3 linked regions of the Homo sapiens genome follow. The protein of the gene in region 1 purifies or fractionates together with the protein of each later gene. This does not show direct contact. Each region holds a gene or a part of one and is shown in the gene's direction. Other genes may lie near its edges.

Region 1 (7,158 bases):
GTTCAAGCAATTCTCCTGCCTCTGCCTCCTGAGTAGCTGAGATTACAGGTGGCCACCACCACGCCCAACTAATTTTTGTATTTTTAGTAGAGACGAGATTTCACCATGTTGGCTGGGCTAATCTTGAACTCCTGACCTCTGGTGCTCTACCCACCTCGGCCTCCCAAAGTGCTAGGATTACAGGTGTGAGCCACCATGCCCAGCCCTGAAACACAGTCTTAATTTTCTTTTCTATGTTCATATTGTTGCAGTAAACTGAGGAACGGAGAGACTAATACGGAGTACAGGAGGATTTGTTTATTTTAGGCACGCACCGGCTCGGAGGATTCACATCTAAAAGCTGAGCCTTGAACAAAGACTGAGCGGGTTTTTATAAGTGGCTTTACAGAAGCAAAATAAAAGCAATTAATCATACAGTAACAGGTTACATAATCTATAGCGTAACATAACTTGTGACTTAGCCAGTGGCCTTGTAGCTGCATTAAAAGAAAAACAAGAACTGGCTAAATACAGACATTTGTAAAACATAATCATGCTAATCATGCTTAAGAAGCCCGGGAAAAGAGTAACATTAAAAGAACTTGTATTTCTCTTTTTTTTTTCTTTCAACCTTGCTCTGGAACCAGGGGTCGGGGGGAGGGTGGTGTCTGGAGCTTATTCCTTTGGCCTTGGCTATTTGGACAGCGTTATCTTCTAACTGTCTTCAAAGTGAGCTACTAGGCAGAGGAAAACTTGTTCTTTTCTTTTTAACTCTTGCCTTGCCACATTCTGGGCCTTAGTTTTTACTTTTCTTGGAGTGAATAAATGCAGTACTTATTATTATTTAAATTTCTGCCTCAATGTAGTCACTTGCTCAGTAGACTGTCTAGGTTTCTTCATTTGTCCTTGCTAACAGAGCTAATCTTGCCATTTCTATTTTCCTCTTAATGTGCCCTAGTATCTCCTGTTCTCAAATTTACATTCTCGTGACAGTTGATAAGGCAGAGAACCAAATCTGCCACCAAAAATCTCATTCTCCTACTTTTCTTCCTTTAACCCCTTTTCCCCCTCACTTTGGTACTTATCTTTGGAAGGCAGCAATTCTTATTTATCATCGAAATCTTTTATTTCCTTTTTAAATTTGTAGCAGAATCATTCAGAGATAAAAATAAGTAATCCCACTGAATTCCAGAATCATGAAAAGCAGGAAAGCCAGGATCTCAGAGCTACTGCAAAAGTTCCTTCTCCACCAGACGAGCACCAAGAAGCTGAGAATGCTGTTTCCTCAGGTAAACGTGGAATAAATGGTATGTCAAGTAACTTTAAAAACCAAAATTGCTAGAAGTAGCCAGGTACATTAATTTCCTAGGACTGTTGTGACAAAGCACCACAACTGGGCAGCTTAGAACAACAGAAATTTACTCTTTCATAGTTCTAGAGGCTGGAAGTCCAAAATCAATGTGTCAGCAGGACCATGCTTCTCTGAGACTCTGGGTGGACTCCTTCCTTGCCTCTGACTACTTTGCGATGGCTGTCGACGCTTGGTGTTCCTTGGCTTGCAGCTGCATCATTACCAGTCTCTGGCTCTGACAGCGCATGACATTCTCTCTCTATGTCTTCTTAATAGGACAGCAGTCATATTGGATTAGGATCCACCCAAATAGGCCAAGCATAGTGGCTGGTGCCTATAATCCCATTACTTTGGGAAGCCAAGTCAGGAGGATTGCTTGAGCCTAGGAGTTCAGGACCAGCCTGGGCAACATGGTGAGACCCTGTCTCTACAAAAAGTCAAAAGAATCAGCCAGCCATGATGGTGCACACCTGTGGTCCCAGCTACTCAGGAGGCTGAGGTGAAAGGGTTGCTTGAACCCAGGAGGTTAAGGCTGCAGTGGGCCATCTTCATACCACTTCACCCCAGCATGGACAGAGTGAGACCCTATCTCAAAAAATTAAAAGAACATCCAAATGATGTCATTTTAACCTTAATACATCTGAAAAAAAATTCCCATATCTAAATAAGGTCATATGACAGGTACCAGTGGTTAGGACTTCAACATATCTTTTAGGGGGCCACAATTCAACCCATAGCACCATGTTATAGAATTTCTTTTTTTTTTTTTTAGACAGAGTCTTGCTGTGTTGCCCAGGCTGGAGTTGCAATGGTACGATCTTGGCTCACTACAACCTCCACCTCCTGGGTTCAAGCGATTCTCCAGCCTCAGCCTCCCAAGTAGCTGGGATTACAGGCTCGTGCCACCAGGCCCAGCTAATTTTTGTATTTTTAATAGAGACGGGGTTTCACCATGTTGGCCAGGCTTGTCTCGAACTCCTGACCTCGTGATCCACCCACCTCAGCCTCCCAAAGTGCTGAGATTACAGGCGTGAGCCACCGCACCCGGCCTTCCTTTCGCTTTCTTTTGCCTACTAAACCTCTGCTCTTAAAAAATAAAAAATAATAATAAATAAATGAAAATAAAATATCTCAGTATTAGTTTCACCTGGGCAAATCTGCTAGGGCCCTGAGCCTTGCCAGAGGAGGAGTTAGAGAGACTGAGAGAGGATAATTCATTCCAGTATCCACCAAGCAGTTAAATCTGGAATTTCTAATCCTGAGCCTTCTCATTTTCCCTAAAACTTTGAGTGTCATACTGAATCTAGAAAATTACAGGATTCCTTGGGTCTGAGATGGGCTTGGGAATCTTCAGTTTTTAACAAGTCTCCCAGGTAATTTTTAATTTTTATTTATTTATTTATTTATTTATTTTTGAGACAGGGTCTTGCTCTGTTGCCCAGGCTAGAGCACAGTGGCACGATCTCAGCTCACTGCAGCCTCAGCCTCCTGAGTACCTGGGACTATAGGCATGCACCACCACGCCCGGCTAATTTTTGTATTTTTAGTAGAGACAGGGTTTCACCATGTTGCCCAGGCTGGTCTCAAACTGCTGAGCTCAAGTAATCTGCCCACTTCAGCCTCCTAAAGTGCTGGGATTACAGGTGTGAGTCACCATGCCCAGCCAGCATTTTTTAATACAGGCCAGTTTTTTGTCCTCTGAGTTGGTTTGTCTAATATGTCCTCATGCTTAGAATCAGACTATGGGCTGTTGGCAGGAATCCCAAAGAGCAATGCTGTTGCTTCCTCAGTAAGCACCCTAGGAGGCACAAGTGCTGGTTTTTCCTATGGCTAGTCACGTTAACTTCCATCAGTTAGTTATGGTGGTGTCTGCTAGGTTGTTTCTTTGTGAAGTTACTCTTTTACCACTTGGAATTAGTAAGTATCCTGTGGAGAGTTACTCTACATAAATATCCTTTCTTTGTTTTGTTTTGTTTTGAGACAGAGTCTCTCTCTGTTGCCCAGGCGGGAGTACAGTGACAGGATCTCGGCTCATTGCAACCTTTGCCTCCCAGTCTCAAGCAATTCCACTGCCTCAACCTCCCAAGTAGCTGGGATTACATGTGTGCACCACCATGTTTTTGTTTTTTCAGTAGAGACAGGGTTTCACCATGTTGGCCAGACTGGTCTCGAACTCCTAATCTCAGGTGATCGGCCCACTTCGGCCTCCCAAAGTGCCAGGATTACAGGCGTGAGCCACCAAACCCTGCCAAATATCCTGTTTCTCATGAAACTTTCACCTTCTGGTTTTATAGCCAAAGTCTAAGCAGAAGCCCCTGCGACCATTCCAACACTGACAGAACATTCCTCTGCCTTGTTTTACGGATACATTGGGGAAACTTAAGGATGAGAACTTTAGAAATGGTATTTCTTGGAAACCCACTTGCTTGTAAATCAGTGGTTGAAAGAAAAGAAAAAAATAATTAAAAAGAGATGAAAGCTCATTGCATATTTTTAAAATAGATTGCCTGAAGTTGAAAAAGATGTAAGATTGAGGCTTTCTTATATTTGTAAGATTAGACTCATAGCTCTATAGCATATTATACGGGGCCCTTTATGGTTTAACCCGCTACCTGTCCTATTCTCAACGTCCTCCACTCCCTCTTATGCACCCTACACTTCAGCAATTTCAGCCTACCTCAGTTTCTCTGAATGTCATTATTTCCACTGTACTACAGCTTTATATATCACTATTGTTCCCTCTGCCTGGAATGGTTCTTTTCCATCCTTGCCTAATAAATTCCATTAAGGTCAAAAAAATAAAGAAACGACAGAATTTGGAAAATGATTATGGTAAGTGGGAAAAAATACCTAACCTAATATATACCATAATTTCAACTGAAGTTAAAAAATAATAATAATAAGCTGGCTACAGTGGCACATGCCTGTAGTCCCAGTTACTCAGGAGGCTGAAGCAGAAGTATCACTTGTGCCCAGGATTTTGAGGCCAGCTGGGCAACGTAGTGAGACCTTGTCTCTTCACAGAAGCAAACAGGCCAGGCGCAGTGGCTTACGCTTGTAATCCTAACACTTTGGGAGGCCAAGGTGGATGGATCACCTGAGGTCAGGATCGAGACCAGCCTGGGTAACATGACAAAACCCTGTCTCTACTAAAAATACAAAAATTAGCCGGGTGTGGTAGCTCACACTTGTAATCCCAGCTACTTAGGAGGCTGAGACAGGAGAATCTCTTGAACCCTGGAGGCAGAGGTTGCAGTGAGCCAAGATCGCGCCACTGCACTCCATCCTGGGCGACAGTGTGAGTCCGTCTCAAAACAAACAAATGACAACAACCAAAATAAGTATAGGAAGCAGAGGACCAGAGGAAATATGCCAGACGTTAATGGTGTTTTCTTTGGCTGATTGGATTACGTGACTTTTATCACTAGTTGTAACAATATTATGTTCATAATAAAAACTGAAAAAGTTTGTTTTAACCGATATATATATATATATATATGTTTAATTTATATTAAATAATTTTTTAGTAATAGAGACGGGGTCAGGGCAGGGCGCGGTGGCTCACTCCTGTAATCCCAGCACTTTGGGAGGTTGAGGCAGGCAGATCACAAGGTCAGGAAATGGAAACCATCCTGGCTAACACGGTGAAACCCTGTCTCTACTAAAAATACAAAAAAAATTAGCCGGGTGTGGGGGCGGGCGCCTATAGTCCCAGCTACTCGGGAGGCTGAGGCAGGAGAATGGCTTTAACCCGGGAGGTGGAGCTTGCAGTGAGCCGAGATCACGCCACTGCACTCCAGCCTGGGCGAAAGAGCGAGACTCCATCTCAAAAAAAAAAAATAGAGACAGAGTCTTGCTGTGTTGCCCAGGCTCGTCTCAAACTCCTGGACTCAAGCCATCCACCCACCTCAGCCTCCCAAAGTGCTGGGATTACAGGCATGAGCCACTGCACCTGGCCAACTTTCTGTATTTTTATTTTATGTATTTATTTATTTTTTTTGAGACAGAGTCTCGCTTTGTTGCCAGGCTGGAGTAGAGTGGCGTGATCTCAGCTCACTGCAACCTCCACCTCCTGGGTTCAAGCGATTCTCCTGCCTCAGCCTCCTGAGTAGCTGGGATTACAGGCACGCCCCACCACGCCCAGCTCATTTTTGTATTTTTAGTAGGGACAGGGTTTCACCATGTTGGCCAGGATGGTCTCCATCTCTTGAACTCATGATCCACCCGCCTCGGCCTCCCAAAGTGCTGGGATTACAGGTGGGAGCCACCGCGGCGCCTGACCAACTTTCTAATATGTTTATATAACTTCTCCACAGGTGTCAGAAAATTTCTGAATGCCTACTTGAAGCATATGACCTGTAATCGTAGGAATGCTGTAACTAATTTTTTGTGCTCCCTATGTGCTGTTTCTACCACCATCTTGACAGAGCCTACCATGTGAAAATACTCTGTTAACTTACACACGTTTTTTTTTTTGTTTTTGTTTTTGTTTTTGTTTTTTTAGAGGTGGAGTCTCACTCTGTTGCCCAGGCTGGAGTGCAGTTGCGCGATCTCGGCTCACTGCAAGTTCCGCCTCCCGGGTTCACACCATTCTCCTGCCTCAACCTCCCGAGTAGCTGGGACTACAGGCGCCCACCACCACGCCCGGCTGACTTTTTGTATTTTTAGTAGAGATGGGGTTTGATAGTTTATAAGCCAGGATGGTCTTGATCTTCTGACCTCGTGATCCACCCGCCTCGGCCTCCCAAAGTGCTGGGATTACAGGCGTGAGCTACCGTGCCCGGCCACATATTTCTTAATGAGAACTTTTTTGAAATCCTTCATTATTTCTGTGTCTTTGGATTTAGGTAACAGAGATTCAAAGGTACCTTCAGAAGGAAAGAAATCTCTCTACACAGATGAGTCATCCAAACCTGGAAAAAATAAAAGAACTGCAATCACTACTCCAAGTAAGTTTTGTAGACAAAGCCATAATAAGTAATGGTTGCCCCACTTCGGAATGATGTTGGACTGTAACAGCTGAAAGCATAGAGGCTGGAACCAGTTTACATTCTAGTTCTCTCGTCTTTTAGGTTTGATATCTTGGGGAACTTACTCATCCTCAATAAACTCACTTCCTCAGTGCAAAGTGGAAATAGTTATACTATAGTGCCTATTTCTTTCTTTTTTTTTTTTTTTTTTGAGACAGAGTCTTGCTCTGTCACCCAGGCTAGAGTGCAGTAGCGTGAGCTTGGCTCACTGCTACCTCCACTTCCCAGGTTCAAGTGATTCTCCTGACTCAGCCTCCCTAGTAGCTGGGACTACAGGTGTGCTCCACCACGCCCAGCTGATTTTTGTATTTTCAGAACAGATGGGGTTTCACCATGTTGGCCAGCATGGTCTCAACTTCTTGACCTCATGATCCGCCTGCCTCGGCCTCCCAAAGTGCTGGGATTCCAGGCGTCAGCCACTCTGCCTGGCCTATAGTACCTATTTCATCAGGTTGATAGATACATAAATTGAGAATACTTTTTCCACTACTGCTTCCCTATCACGGCAAATAGCATGCAGCAAGGATTCAATAAACAACTGATGAATCAATGTATGAACTACTTGGTACAATATCCACCTTCTAATGAGTTTTTCATAAGTCTAAATGATTCCGTTTTTGGGCATGTAAGTCTTCTCTATCTTATATTGTTGGAACATTGCTTGGCACATAGAATGTTGATTATTATATTTATAGTAGTTGCAATGCTGCTTATCGTATATTCAAAATTCAATAAATGTTCATATACTTAATCAGAATAGGATACAGTTGGGGTCAGCAAACTGTTGCCTGCCTTGGC
Region 2 (7,269 bases), on another chromosome or scaffold:
ATAACACAAGGCAACAGAAAAATAAAATAGTACCTGTGTATTTTTGGGGCATTGACCTTCACTTCCAAAAAGCTTTCCTTGATGTTAATGGAGCACCTGACTCTCAAGGCATGGTATAAAAATAGACTGTGAATAAGAATACTACGAGTTCTACCAAATAGCCTGTGATATGTGCATTTGAACAATGTATATTACAATATAGCATTGAAGTTGTTTTGTTTGTGTACCAAGTCATTATCTATACGTTTGTATGTATACATAGTGTGAAAATGTATTTGCCAAAATATTATCTTAAATCAATGTTGCCATGTTTTCTCTTTTTATTATTTATGATGTCAATGTGCTGAGATATTTTAATAAATATCATATATCAGTCAAAAATTGTATTATTAAAAATGAATACACCTAGTGTAGTCCAAAGAAATGTTTTATGAACATATATACACCAAGGATCTAAAGAGCAAAGTTAACCTTTTATCTTTGATTTATCACGTGTCAGTCACTCCACCCCTGTTTGCCTCACTCAAACACATTATTATTATTATTATTATTATTATTATTATTATTATTGTGCATTTCAAAGTAAGTTGCAGACATCTTTGCAGTTCACCCTGGGACACAGTGGCATGCAGATTATAACATAGTCAAAGCAGTAAGAACCACCATTGCAAGAAAGAGGATGAATTAAAGTTCACCCAGGCTTATTTCAGATCCCAGAGCAGGAAATGAGGAGGGCAGATGAGGAGAAATGAGGATTCTGAAATAGTCTACTCGTGGGAGAAGAGTGCTGTCATGAAGGTGGAGTCGCTGCCCAAGAGAGACTGGAGAGAGAGTGTGTAGAGCCATTGAACATCAGGGATGCACACTGTAGGGCCTGGGGCAGACAGAACAGGCTGCAGCAGGGGATAAGCCCCTGGCCCATGTGGAAGTTGCAAGCTGGGTGGGTGCTGTGGATGCCATAGTGATGTGGAATGAGAAGAGAAAATGGGAGCCTGGGCTCCAAACAAGGAGTGAGCAGAGCCACACTTCTTACTCTCTCACTGAATCAGGTAACATGGAGAAAGGTCTGGATCTCTGCACCTGCCCAGTAAGGAAGCAGAGGTGGGAGAGGGAGAGTCAGCCTGGACAAACTCAGGGAGAAGCAGAGGCCCCAGCCTCATTGCACATGTGTTCCTGATCTGATTCCTCTGATTCTCCAGGTGTTGAAGAGCCATGAACAAGACTACTTCATTGGCAACAAGCTGAGCCAGGCTGACATTCACCTGGTCAAACTTCTCTACCACGTGGAAGAGCCTGACTCCAGCCTCATCTCCAACTTCCCTGTGCTAAAGGTGACCCATTTCCCAGTCCTCAAGAGGCAGCTCCTCATCTCCCATCTTGGGATCTAGTATCTGGGCCCTTGGACTGGCCACATTCTGACCTCAGCCTTCTCCAGGTCTTCAGGGCCCCCCAGGTCTCCAAAATGAGCTTCCAAGTCCTGATTCTGAGGCATGGAAATGCCTTCTTGTTATGCCAAGGAAATCTGATGTGCATGCTACCCCAAGAATATTTCGCTTTTTATAATGCCAAGGACCCAGGGCCCAGCATCTCTCCTCATCCCTTTATTTCACTGTGGTTTCTGTTCCTGAGTTCTCTGTGATGCCCTTTATCCCAATATGCCCTTATCTTCCCACACCAAGTGTGTCTGAGCAGGGCCCTTTCCATCTGGTTCCTTCCTTATGCTCTGGCTCCTGCTGTCAGATAACTGAGTTCCTTGTGCACAGCTCTCCCAACACGCTGTCCCCGAAAGCTATATCTCTCTATGGGAAAAAGTGGCCCCATGGTTTGACTTTAACATTTTCTATTTTCATTTCTAACTCAATTTTCCCATATCTTCACTTCTTCTGCTTAGAGACTGATCTGTGCTGATATCTCACAGGCACATTGTTCTTTCTCATCTTCTACAAGAGCCATGAATCTACAAGATTCATGTGTAAGGAAGAGGGTAGGAAGACTGAACTGAATAAAGTCTTAAAGACATTTTTTGGGAAAATGCTAGTGAGCTGCATGTTCTTCCTCTTATCTTCATTTCTCACGTAGTGTCTCTTTCTGCCTCCCTACTGGTGCTGATAGAGGGAACTTAGTTGGTCTTTGTGTAGGAGGGGCGCAGATTCCCTGGGTTGTGTTAATGGTGGTGTCAGTCCTTGGCTTCACTCTGAGGCTGTGCTTTGTGCATTGCGGGCCCTGAAAATCAGAATCAGCAAACTCCCCACAGTGAAGAAGTTTTTGCAGCCTGGCAGCCTGAGGAAGCTTCCCATAGATGCAAAAGGTTTACAAGAAGCAACAAAGATTTTCAAGGTTTGATAAAGCAGGCATGGATGCCAAGAACATGCAATACCAATATTCTAAAGTTTTGCAACAATAAATTGCTTTATCTAAATGTTGGTTGTGGCTATTGTGAAGTTAATAAACTTTTTAAAAATTGTATGCTAATTACATAGTAAAATGCCTATGACCAGATTTAGTTAAAATTGATTTCTTTTCATTAGTATCTGATATGAAATCAGATTTCCGAACTGCCCATAAATTTTCTTGGAATTAAAAATTTAGTAAAAAGTACAATGTAGACTATGTGGTTTGTTTGACTTTTTCAAGAATTGTCCTGCAACATTTGTGAAATTGCCTATCAAAAACTCATGTATAGAAATTTACTTCTGACATTCTGCACAAGAAAACAGTTATCATTCTGGGGAATGGCAAAATGAAATTTTCTTTTTTCCTTGACATCCATTTTATTTCTCATGAAAACACTTTTTCTTATGCATTTTCAAACAACCTTTCTGTCTGCTATGGATCCCTCAGTTTTCTAGGAGGTGAGGAAATATTGAAGAGCAAACAGACCCACCCTCTGCTCTCAGGCCAACTTGTCATCCCTTACAGTGCATGTGCTCCTGGCTCATCCTCACTCTCCTCCTTAAGGCTCTGTGGGGACCCGGGCATAAGCCTTCCCTCAGTTCGTTCAGTGCCACTCAGGCCTGGCTGCGAAGATACAGATGGTATATGTGAATTACGTATAAGTAACTATATTTAAAATTATTTTTCCCTGGTGTGTCATTGTGCCAGCGTGTTTGGATTAGAAGTGATTTCCAGGAATCCTTCCCTGCGTCTTCTAGTTTCGGGGGGCTCTTGGCCTTTCTGGACTTTCATGGATCATGACCACATCACTCTAATTTCTGCCTCTGTCTTCCTGCACCTCACCCCCTGTGTGTTGTGTCTTCTCTTCTCTCTGCTGTGAGGACAATTGTCATTGGATTTGGGGCCTATCCAGATATACCAAGATGATCTCATCTCAAATTCTTTTACTTCATTACATCTGCAAAGAGCCTTTTTCCAAATAAGATCAAGTTCACAGGATCTAGGGATTTATATATGGACCTGTCTTTCTTGGGGTCCAACATAACCCCCTACATGGTGTAGATGAAGAAAGAATATTTGCAATTGATGAATCCAGGTGATGGATACTTTCATATTTGTTATATTATGGGCAATTTGAGTGACGCAAAGAGGATAGCATATGCAAATAGGGTTCCCGGATTTGTCAGATAAAATGCAGGATACCCACCTAAATGTGAATTTCAGGTAAACGATAAATAATATTTCAGTATAATCTGGTTTCATACCGTGTTTGGAACATAGCTATAACTAAAAAATTGTTGATTGTTTGCCTGAAATTCACATTTACATGGATGTCCTATATTTTATTTGGCAACCCAGTAAGAAAACGGTGGCATCAGCTTGCCCTTCACAGACATCCTCTCCCAGCTATGCTCACAATAGGGTTTTTTCAGTTGCCCTAGTCTTTGCATCCAACTCATGAAAAAAAGTATCTTTAAAAAGCCAGTTTCTGCTGACTTGCAAAAAGAGCAAAATCTAGGTGAAATGTATTGTTTAAACTTTGATTACCAACCTTGAAAAGGAACATATTAACCAGTGTCTTCTGATAAGCAGATCACTTGCCTCATGTCTTAGAATCCAGTAGGTGGCCCCTTGGCCATGAAATGTGTGGGAGTGGCTTTTCCCTAACTTGACCCTTCTTTCAGTGGGAGGGAACTATTGAGAGGAACAAAGAGCTTATAAATACATTAGGACCTGGAATTCGGTTGTCCAGCCACAAAGGTGACAGCATTTAACAAAGTAAGTACTGATCTTATAAATCTCTCTACATTGCCTCACACCCTCCTCTCTAGCCTCCTAGAAAAATACACTAATATGTGTCCTTAGCACAAGAAAAAGTTTGTTTTTACTCATATCATGCCATCTTGGTGTGTTTGGGTGACAGTTCAAGAACTGTTTATTTCTTTTCTGTTGGATACATCTTTACAGAAATGTAAAAATGAAGAGTTTAGAAAACCAGGGCCTCAGCATTTAAAGGTATGGGAAACAATGACATGAGGAGAAAAAAGAAATGGTAGCATTTTAAACAATCTGAGAATAATCAGTGCTGGAAGAAGTGGCAATGTATGCAAAAATTTCTTTATATATATAGTCAACACACAATTGTAAATTGTGACACTGTAATTCTATATTGGCTGTGAAAATTCAAAACTAAGGTTTATTATAATTAGAAAAAATTAGTTTGAATGTTAGGAGGACTAGATTCTAGTTGAGCCTCTGCCACTAATTAGCTCGACGACAAGTCATATTCTGTCTCTGGAGTACTACCAACTCATGGCCAATATAGAGAATAGCTAAGAAAGAGGCTCTGACTGTTGCTGCGAACTGTGTAATTCTTTGAACGGAGATCTGTCCTGCCCACTCTAGGATATTTCTAAGCATCCCTGAAGGGGTGGCCTGCCCCTCCACACCTGTGGGTGTTTCTTGTTGGGTGGGATGAGAGACTGAGAAAAGAAAGAGACACAGAGACAAAGTATAGAGAAAGAAAAGTGGGTCCAGGGGACCGGGGCTCAGCATATGGAGGACCTGCGCTGGCGCCAGTCTCTGAGTTCCCTCAGTATTTATTGATCATTATCTCTACCATCTCAGAGAGGGGGATGTGGCAGGACAATAGGATAATAGTGGGGAGAGGGTCAGCAGGAAAACGTGAACAAACTCACGTCTCTGTGTCATAAACAAGGTTAGAAAATGTGCTGTGTTTTGATGTGCACATACATAAACATATCTGGTGCATTAAAGAGCAGTATTGCCGCCAGCATGTCTCACCTCCAGCCTTAAGGCAGTTTTCTCCTATGTCAGTAGATGGAACATACAATTGGGTTTTACACCAAGACATTCCATTGCCCAGGGATAAGCGGGAGACAGATGCCTTCCTCTTATCTCAACTGCAAAGAGGCCTTCCTCTTTTACTAATCCTCCTCAGCACAGACCGTTTATGGGTGTCGGGCTGGGGGACTATCAGGTCTTTCCCTTCCCACGAGGCCATATTTCAGACTATCACATGGGGAGAAACCTTGGACAATACCTGGCTTTCCTAGGCAGAGGTCCCTGCGGCCTTCCGCAGTGTTTTGTGTCCCTGGGTACTTGACATTACTGAATAGTGATGACTTTTAACAAGCATACTGCCTTCAGGCATTTGTTTACAAAGCACATCCTCCATAGCCCTAAATCCATTAAACCTTGAGTCCACACAGTACATGTTTCTGTGAGCACAGGGCTGGGGGTAGGGTTACAGATTAACAGCATCTCAAGGCAGAAGAATTTCTCTTAGTACAGAACAAAATGGAGTCTCTTATGTCTACTTCTTTCTACATAGACATAGTAACAGTCTGATCTCTCTTTCTTTTCCCCACACATCCCTGCCCTCTACCTATCTGATTTGTAGCCCCCCTCCCTCTCTGCAGATATAGCAACCCAAAATGTCTCTAGACCTTGCTCAATGTCCTCTGGAGCAGAGGAACAAAATCCCCCTGGTTGAGAACCATGGGACTACATGACCTCATGGGGCTAAGCAAGGCTGTGTTACCGATGTGCCCCACTGCTTGGACATTCACTGAAAACTTCCTGTTAATCCAGGTGGGCTGATTAGTGAATATCATTGACCTCTGTACAGGAGCTAAAAAGCAAAGAGAGAGAGAAACAGAGAGCCATCATATGACAGATTTGATATAAGTCTGGATTCATATAAAATCTTATTCCTACTAGAGTTCTACGGACAAAATATAGAGAACCAGAGAAATGGATACAAGATAGATAATAGATGATGAAGAGACAGATTACAGAGAGATAGATACATAGAACGATTGATAGATAAAATAATACATACATGGATGGGTAGACAGAGATTATAAACAGATACATGTACATAGATTGTTGGTTGGTAAAATAATTGGTGGATAGATAGATCAAAGAAAGAAGATCCATGGGCTACTCAATGTGTCCAGAGCCTCACCCATCTTCCAAGCACTGGGACAAGAGCAAACACCCTGTGTTCCTACTATGATTTTTTTCTACATTATCTCATTTAACTTTCTCAACAACCCTCAAAAGTAGAAATAACTATCTCTAATCTAAGAAGAGAAAATTGAGGCTCAGAGATTAAACAACCTACTGCATTTATGAATCTCATAATGGAAGGAGTCATGGTTTATCTCATTCTCCCTTCTCTCTGATAAGAAACAGTGTCACTGGGACAACCTCAGAGACGTAACTCCTTTAATTTACTCCTGGAAATATGAGACCTTATAGTCCTTTCAAAACAAGCCCATTTTTTAATTGATGTAAATTAATTATTGATGTAAAGTAATTACACTAGTCCTCAACTCACTCTGGTTTTTAGGTTGTCAAAGTAGAGAAAGGCACACTTTTATTAGTTTTTTCTTCCAAGCAAGCCCCTGAAAAGTTGCTAACAGGAGGAACTCAGGAATTAGATGTTCCCCTCTCGCCCTCTCCTTCCAACATTTATTTGGCTAATATACATTGAATAGGAAAATACAAAACAACTTCTCAGACAGGAGCTGAGAGCCAGGTTATGAGGTGGAGTGGAAAAGCTCCGGACCTGCAATCAGAAGTTCAGGCTGACCCAACACTCACCACGTGTGCAGCATGAGACAGGTGCTTTAGCTCTCTGAAATTCAGTGTACCCATCTTTAATTAGGATAATAGGAGCCATTTCCCAGGGTTGTTGCAGAAGGTAAACACACTCCCTAGATATTGACTATGAATGAGGAGCATGTGTGTATGACCCATGGCAAATCCTTGAGCTCTCTGGTTCTCATTTTCTGTTGACCCAACAAAGCTCAATGGTAACTTATGTCTCAGTCTTAGCCTGACCCT
Region 3 (7,802 bases), on another chromosome or scaffold:
AATGTTACAGAAACAATTGGCGCCACCTTTATGCCTTTTATTTCTCAATTTGTTTGGAATGGGGCAGGAAAGGGGGTGCTACTTGGGCCCTCTTGAAAACCATTTCTCTCACCTCTTAATTTATGAATGAAGGGGCTGAGGCCAACAGAAGTAAAGTTTAATTTGCCCAGATTCAAGTGGTAGTTTATGAGTACCTGTTCTGTGCCAGTCTAGATATTGTAAAGGATACACGTATAAACACAACTCAAGTTTCTTAAGAAGCTTATAATTTAGTGACCAACCGGAGGTCCCACAGCAAGCTGGAACTGAGAAGTGATTTCTCTGTTGTTTATAATGCTGTTATATTTTTGTTTCCTCTATTTTCTATCTTCTTTTTTTATTGATATAATTGAGTTAAATAGGCTTTTCTATGCAAATTATGGAATTTAATTACATTTTCTTTCTATGAAAGAATATTTCTAAAAGCACAGATTTTAATTCTCTGAACTGCTGTCCTCCTCCGCACACAGGAGGGGCCCTTTGAAGATTATCAAATGGTATGCTGGTAAACTGGCTTTCTGGGGGGTGGGGAGATTAGAGAGAAATGGGAAGCCCTGTTTATAGAATTTGCCAATTTCTATGGTGTAAATACTCCTACCATAGCTGATTTCAAGCTACTGATGATTTAACAACCAGTTTGCAAAGTTCCTGAAAATTTAGCAATCAGTACTTCTGAGCCAGATACAAGATACAAGCTGGCTTCAGCAGACCTTACTACAGGTTCTTCTCCCACTCCTCGCAGTAAAAATAGGCTAAATATTTACTGAGCACCTGTTATATGTCAGTCTCTGGGCTTTCTTTGGGGGTTAGACATAGTCTGAGACCTCAGGGAATGTATAGTTTAGAGGGGGAGATAGTATATTTCAGCACTGTGTGGTATTAGGCCAGGGAAATGAGAAATATCAGTAGGAATCAGAAAACTCTTCTTAGAGGTGGTGACATCTACATGAAATCTGAGGAATGGCAAAGAATTAGACTGAGAGGGAGGGGTGGAGAAGAATGCTCCACAGGAAACAATTATGTACAGGCTTAAATAATGAATAAGCAGAATGTGAGTGTGGAGTTAGAAGTGGTCTAGCAAGAGCTGAAGGGCAGCCTGAATTTCCCTCCTGAGCGCCCACTCCACATATCTGGCCTTCTGCTTGACACCTCCATGAGGATGTGCCACAGAGTCACCAAATTCAACATATTCCAAAGTAAGCTCCTTCCACCTTTCTCCTCCTCAGCTTGGTCCACAATACTAACCGTCTCTTACTTCTATGGCTGGATAATATTTTGAGATACTAATTTATGATTTTTTTTCCAACTTGTATTTACCCCCTTGTTGCCTTCGGGAGAGATGTGGCAGGGTAGAGAGGAGTTGCCTGCAGATCATTTTTTCATTCTGGCTCTTACTGAAAACAACCTGAGCCCCCAGAGACAGAATAGAGTTTGCTGGCAATGGCAGAGTGTCTGGGAAAAAAAAAATGAAGAGGAAGGATTTTCCTTAAGAAGTGATTCCCTTGTATCTGGAAAGAAGAGGATAGAAGTCAGTATGTCCCAAGGCAGTGGGATTTGAGCCCTGAACTTGGACCACCATAATACCCTAAACATAAATGACCGAGGATGTGTGAGGCTTAGCAGGATGGTCCCAGATCTAGGAAATTCCTCTGGCCTCAGGTGTGGTGCCGGAGCCAAAGGGAGGGAACCAGTGTATAGGGCAGGGCCGTCTCGTCTATAGGCAGGTTGTGCACTGTATCATGGAACCATAGGTGGCAGCTCCAGGAAGGAACAAAGGAAACCTCTGTGGACAGATGACTGCAATCCGAAGGACCTCCCCTCCACTCCCTGCCATCATCACCCATTCATGGTCTGGTCTGGCATATGCTCTTGGAACTTTGACCCTGCTCGAGGGAATGAGGGAAGAACTTTACAAAAGAGTAAGGCCTTTAAAGAGAAATAAAATCAAGTGCAGATTCACGTTCTATGTTCTTCTCCTAGTCTCCTCAGTGTCTCAAAGGGCTGATCCCCGTAGGCTGTTTCCCTGGCTCCCATGGCAGGTGTATCAGACTTGGCCAATGCAAGGCACTGGAAGGAGATTGGAGGGCAGGAGAGGAGAACGTATAGTACATTTCCCCCTTCTCCCTCCCTAGATTGCTTCTTTGGCAGTGGTTGTTTCTCCTCTATGGCCGCAGCTCTCACCAGGCTGGCCATGCTGCCTGGGCCCTGGACTCCAATAACCCTGCCTCTTCTCTTATTTCTCCAGCTAGAGGTCGCAGTTGCTAGTTTCTGGATTACTGTGCCATCTCCTGATTAGCTTCTGACTTTTCCTATCACCTACGTTACCAATTTCTTGCATTCAATTACTTCTGTAGATACTCAAAATGGTTTCTGTTTTCCTGGTTAGACCCTGCTTGAAACAAATGAGTTTATAGAAAAGAAGGTAATGTGGTATTTCTTGCACACCTGTCTTTGTAGATTCTGTTTTACATCATTATGTTGTTATCAAATTCACCTATTCTGTTCTCTCAAGCTGGTTGTTTGCTAGCCGACATCATTTACATCAACGTAGTATAATATTTCCCAGGCAGCTGACATTTTAAAGTCATTTTAAAGGGATTTTCTGGAAAGGATGCCTTGAGGCAAAGACATAACTTACACAAGGAGTGTGTGAGATGGAGCTTCTGAGTCCCCAAATTCAGAAGGCCTTTCAGGGCTCTGGGTCTATTCTACATTTGGGCCTAACCCTTTATATGAATGCCATTTTTCTTTATAGGTTGAAGAGATCTTCCTAAAACACTAAAAAGCTCTGGGAAGGGATTCTGCATTAACTTGCACCTCTTATATGCCCCTCAGCCACGGCACTTGCAACCCACATCCAATCCGAGTGAAGACAATACCCAGTCAGTATCTCTAGGTGGCATAAACATATCCTTGATGGAGCCACACATAAAGCTATTATCAACCATTACTGCATGGTGAATTGGTTTATTAGGTGTTCTTTGTGACACTCAAGAACTGACTTAGGTTCTGATTGGGTGAAGATTCAGGGTTAGGATGGGAGCATAGAACACCACCCAGGGAGGGAGGCAATTTGGAGACAATGCCCTCAAGAGAGCTAGCCTTGAGCCTAATAAACTAAGAGGGGAACTTTATTGCTTTTGGCCAAAGCACACTGCCAAACTCTCAGCGCAAAGGGCAAGTACAAGACATTCTTCTGAAAAAGTTATAAGATTTCAGACAGGAAGAAATGAAATTAAGTCTCTTAATATAAAATATACAATGTTTTGGAGGTGGTTTTATGAGAATGATCATCAGGACAATACACTATTGTGTCAAACAGATTATAATCGGAAATAATTCTCGGTGTATTCTCCTAATGTACTGATGCAAAAAAAGTTTCTTCATTTATTTATTCATATTATGTTGTGCTAGCTTCTATATTTTTGAAATTACATGCAAATCTATGTCGGGAAAAAAAGTAACTGATGTTTTGTAAAATTGTTTAGGGAACATTCCTTAAAACTTATTCTTCCCTCTACCTTCCTTTACTTATTTTAGGGCACATAAGCAGTAGCATAAAATGGCTTATAGCTGAGCGGCCTCCGGGAGTGGTTCTGTTGGACTAGAGGTGTTTATATATTTTTTGCCTTTATATTATCAGGAACATATGTAGATTCTGGAACAAGTGTGAATCAAGACTCGTTTAAACTTATATTAATCTACTCCAGATTTATGTCTTTTATGTTAAGATAAAGCATTTTGTCTTTTAAAAAATAAAACTCTCTTGATTGGACACTGGTACCGAAATTTATAACACTTATAAACAATTTTGGGGTTCACCGACTGCGTACACATTCAGCCTTAGCCACTCAGTAGGCATATGACCTAAACTTTCTGCATTTTTAAAATGTGGATCATAATTGGTTACTTCCTCACAGAATGGTTATTGAGAGATGTAAATTTGGATATGCATGCCAGTAAATATTCTTATTGCTGAGCTTAACCAGTTCGGCAGAAATGTACATGAATTGAGAGAAGCAAATCTTCATCAAAGAAAATAATTTATTACAATAATAGACAAGATCAACATTTGTGCAAATTAAAAAATAGTTAATCCAATCAGAATCTGAATTTGAACTCCCCCCCCCGCCCCACCCCGCCACCTTCACTGGGTATTACGAGTTTTCGTAGACTGATCCTATAATTTTTAATTTCATGGCCTTCTAGTTTTCTGTACTTTTGCTTAGTGCTGAGCCCTTTAAGCAGAGACTCACAAGTGACAAATATCAGCACACCACTTAACTGAGGAAGCCGGAGTGTTCCCAGGTCCGCAAGTTGGAGCTCTTTAGTTGGAGTGCTGGGTTTAGACTAGAGAGCGGGTGTTGCGACTCCTCCTCCCCACCACCAGTCAACAACCCCGCCCACCCCCGCCAACTTCTTCTGGCCTCTTAGCGCCTTTCTGCAGCCAGCCGGCCCGCCCTTCCTCCGGGTGTCTGAGAGCTGGGCGCAGGAGGCGGGCTCAGCGCTGACGGGCTGCGCCTCTGCAGCCAGAGGGAGGAGGCGGGAAGGCGGGCGGAGGAGGAGGCGGAGGAGGAGGCGGAGGAGGGGGCGGGGACTAAGCAGGGCGGTAGCTGGCGCCGAGCGCGGTGGGAGAGGAGAGGGTACCCGGCTGGCTCGGCTGGCGGCCTCTGCCTGGATCTCGGCGCCGCAGTCCTGCGCCTCTCCCGCCCCTGTCTCCCGCTCCGCAGCCCCGGGCACGGCGGAGGCAGCGGAGCCCTGGGCCATCGGTAGGTTGCACGGGGACGACGGCTCCGTCTGTAACCTTTTGTGCTGCAGAAAAGGTGGTGGTTATGGGGGGCTTGGGGGAGTGGGTTTGCCCCAGGCTCCGATCCCCAGTGCCAGCCCTAATCGCGGCGCCGCCCCTTCCTCTCCGCCTCGTGTCTGGGCCGGGCGCACGATGCCCGCGGTGCTGGGGAAACCCGGCCGGACCAGCTTCTGCGATGGGCGGCGGGGCGGCCCCAGCGTCCCTTGGCCTTGGTGGACCGGTTCCCAGGCACCCGAAGGGGACTGGGGTCTGGTAAACTGGGTGGGGCCCGCGCGGGGTGCGGGGAGCTTGCGGTTCCCTGGCACAGGGGTGGGGCCGCAGACGCCGTGAGTGTGCAGCGCGTGTGAGTGTGCGGGGGCGTGCGCCCCCGTGTGCGCGCGTCGTGCGCTCGCTGGGGAGGTGCGGGGACTCGGCGACCCGGAGCGCCTCTCCCGCGGTGCCGCGGTGCGGAAGTCGGGGCGCGTTGGCGCGCACGCTCGCTCGCTCCCTCCCTTGGCCGCTGTTCCCGCACCGCGGGGCAGCGGGCCTGGAGGCCCCTTTGAGAAGTAGCTTTCCCCGGCCGGCGGCACCTTTGGCTGCGTGCCCGGCCGCGCTCAGGGTGCGACTGCCCGGGTCAGATAGCACCTCAGGGCGAGCCCCGGCGGTCTGATCTCGCCGACCCTCCTCGTCCTGGTTGCAACCCGCGTGCGAGGCCGCCCGCGCCCTCCGAGTGTCTGCCGGTGCAGTGGGGGTGGACTGGCCGGCTGTGGCCGTGTGTGCGCGTGTGGATTGGGGCCCGGTCCGAGCCAGAAGCTTAAGCGGCAGATGTCGGGCATTGCCACCCTCGCCCCACCTGTCGCGGGTGGACTTTGGGGCAGGTGGGAAGCGGAGGAGAGGGGTTTCGAGGCGGGTGGCAGTCAGACCTCCAGCAACGCGGCCCCATTGTGAAGCTGCCAAACTCTCTCTAGTGGTGGAATCTGCAGGTCTCCGCCAGAAAGGAGATGGGAACGCGAAGGGAATGATGGCCCCGTCCTTTTCCCCTTGCTAGTGTTCCACACGCTTAGGGACTCCCTGCCTCTCCTTCCACCTCAGTTTTCAACCCAGTGGGTTACTGATTTGGGTGGAACCAAGATTTCCGTGTGTGTGTGTGTGTGTGTGTGTGTTTGTGTGTGTGTGGTGCACAGGTAAAGCTGGAGCTGGGAACTTTTTATTTGAGCAGGAAGAATGGAGGCATTTTACAGTGTGCTTGCCGCTCCTAGCTGAAAGAACAATTCTTGCATATTTCTGATGTTACTAGACTCATTTTCCTTTTTTTTTTTTTTCCGAAGAGCCAACCTACAATTTAGGGTTGTTAGTTGTTTTATTTTCTCAAATCCTGTAATGCTGGATTGACACTATAGAGGTAGAAATGACCCTTTTGCAAAGTTTATTTTCCCAGTCATTTCAAAATATAGTATTGGTTATTACGGCAGAAGCTTTTGGCCGCGATTTATGATTACACTATTAAGTTTAATGAATGTGTCACAGAATCCTCAGTGTTTTAATTATGTAACTGTGAATGCATTATAAACTGAAAAGTAAAATGAACAGGATGGAATATAAGAGTTAATGAATACAGAGACCTGTTAATTTGATAATAATTGATGTATAGAATATGCTTTTGCTAACAGTTTATTTAATTGCAAATGAAAGTGTTAGTAATTATTTCAGTGTATAAGATATATTTATTGATATTATATAACAGTCAATGAATTTGCTTATTTTCTTTGTATATTTCTGTGTATTTTAGAGAGCTATTATAAAATTAACTCAAAAGTACTTAATATGGTTAGAGTAATAAAGCTTTATGTACAGGGTTTAAAATTTCTTTGCTGATTTGTAGCTGGGGGTGAGGTGGGGGATCAGCTCCTTTCCTCCAGAGAGAACTTTGATTTTGTCACCAGCCTATCAAAATGAGTACCTGGTTTTAAGCCTTCCCAAAGATTAGCCAATTCCACAGTGTACACCTGTTCCATTTTGATGATACTTCCTAAGAGACAAATTTCTTGTAAAGGCTGCATGTTGACCTTTAGTTCCACTTACTGTCGGTCATATTTGCAGTGAAACTGAGTATTTTTCTAAAAGTAGAAGGATGACACCACGTGATAAGAAGATATTAGTAACCTAGGTTTAATTTTTACTAGCAGAAATGGAAAGATAATGAGTGCTGCACTTTAAGGGGGTGGATTGCTATTAAAAGAACTGATACTAGAAAGAGAAACACATTTTTGTCTTACTGAACGAATTATGGGTTATCTTACAAAGTTGGCAAGGTTAATGGTTTGTTTGTAAGGTCAAGGATGGTTTCAGAAAAGTCACACCCTAGTTAACTCTTCTTAAAGAGTATTGATGACTTACTTTTTGCAAGTTGCAAATGGTAAAGTAAGAATATTTGAAAGAAGCCTCTAAGATGAGCATCTAGGTGCAGCTAAACATTTTGTTTTCATTGTTGTGTTGTACTTTGACAGTTAAGCCATTTTATTTCTGCTTAGTGTTCAGTTAGTATTCCTCCAGAGATGTTTTGGTTCATCTTTTACTTGTTTTTAGTGGTCTTTGAGATTAGTGGTTACAAAATATTTTCACTATTTTGAAAGAATTTTTAAAAATTGATGTTTTTTTTCCAAGTGCTTTTCCATTAGTGGTCTCTTCTTAAATAGCCACTCTGAAAATACTACCTGTTTTTCTTTTTCTTTCTTTCTTTCTTTCTTTCTTTCTTTCTTTCTTTCTTTCTTTCTTTCTTTCTTTCTTTCTTCCTTTCTTTCTTTCTTTCTTTCTTTTCTTTCTTGAAAATGTTTTGGTGGGCTTCAGGTTAGGGCCATGAAAAAAATGAAAATAAATGTTTTGATAGCTAGAATTAGAACTCACAGCTTCTACTGTACCAATTTCTCTGCCTAAAATTTGTCCTTTCATAATATAAACTTTAATGATGAATGTGATT

What was found.
Region 2: the proteins of NUSAP1 (region 1) and GSTA2 purify together in Homo sapiens (affinity purification with mass spectrometry; 2 studies listed by BioGRID and IntAct, with this or other methods). This does not show direct contact.
Region 3: the proteins of NUSAP1 (region 1) and MACIR purify together in Homo sapiens (affinity purification with mass spectrometry; 3 studies listed by BioGRID and IntAct, with this or other methods). This does not show direct contact.

Annotation. Positions count from the first base shown.
Region 1 is NC_000015.10:41,349,862-41,357,019, forward strand, and holds part of NUSAP1 (nucleolar and spindle-associated protein 1), read left to right. Parts: intron 1-1,126; coding exon 1,127-1,268; coding exon of another isoform or gene 1,269-1,286; intron 1,287-6,177; coding exon 6,178-6,279; intron 6,280-7,158. UniProt on the Homo sapiens protein: Microtubule-associated protein with the capacity to bundle and stabilize microtubules. May associate with chromosomes and promote the organization of mitotic spindle microtubules around them.
Region 2 is NC_000006.12:52,760,348-52,767,616, reverse strand, and holds the start of GSTA2 (glutathione S-transferase A2), read left to right. Parts: upstream 1-4,141; 5' UTR 4,142-4,173; intron 4,174-7,269. UniProt on the Homo sapiens protein: Catalyzes the conjugation of glutathione to a large variety of electrophilic compounds.
Region 3 is NC_000005.10:103,254,089-103,261,890, forward strand, and holds the start of MACIR (macrophage immunometabolism regulator), read left to right. Parts: upstream 1-4,674; 5' UTR 4,675-4,808; intron 4,809-4,941; exon of another isoform or gene 4,942-5,107; intron 5,108-5,136; exon of another isoform or gene 5,137-5,189; intron 5,190-5,335; exon of another isoform or gene 5,336-5,703; intron 5,704-5,817; exon of another isoform or gene 5,818-5,928; intron 5,929-7,802. UniProt on the Homo sapiens protein: Regulates the macrophage function, by enhancing the resolution of inflammation and wound repair functions mediated by M2 macrophages. The regulation of macrophage function is, due at least in part, to its ability to inhibit glycolysis.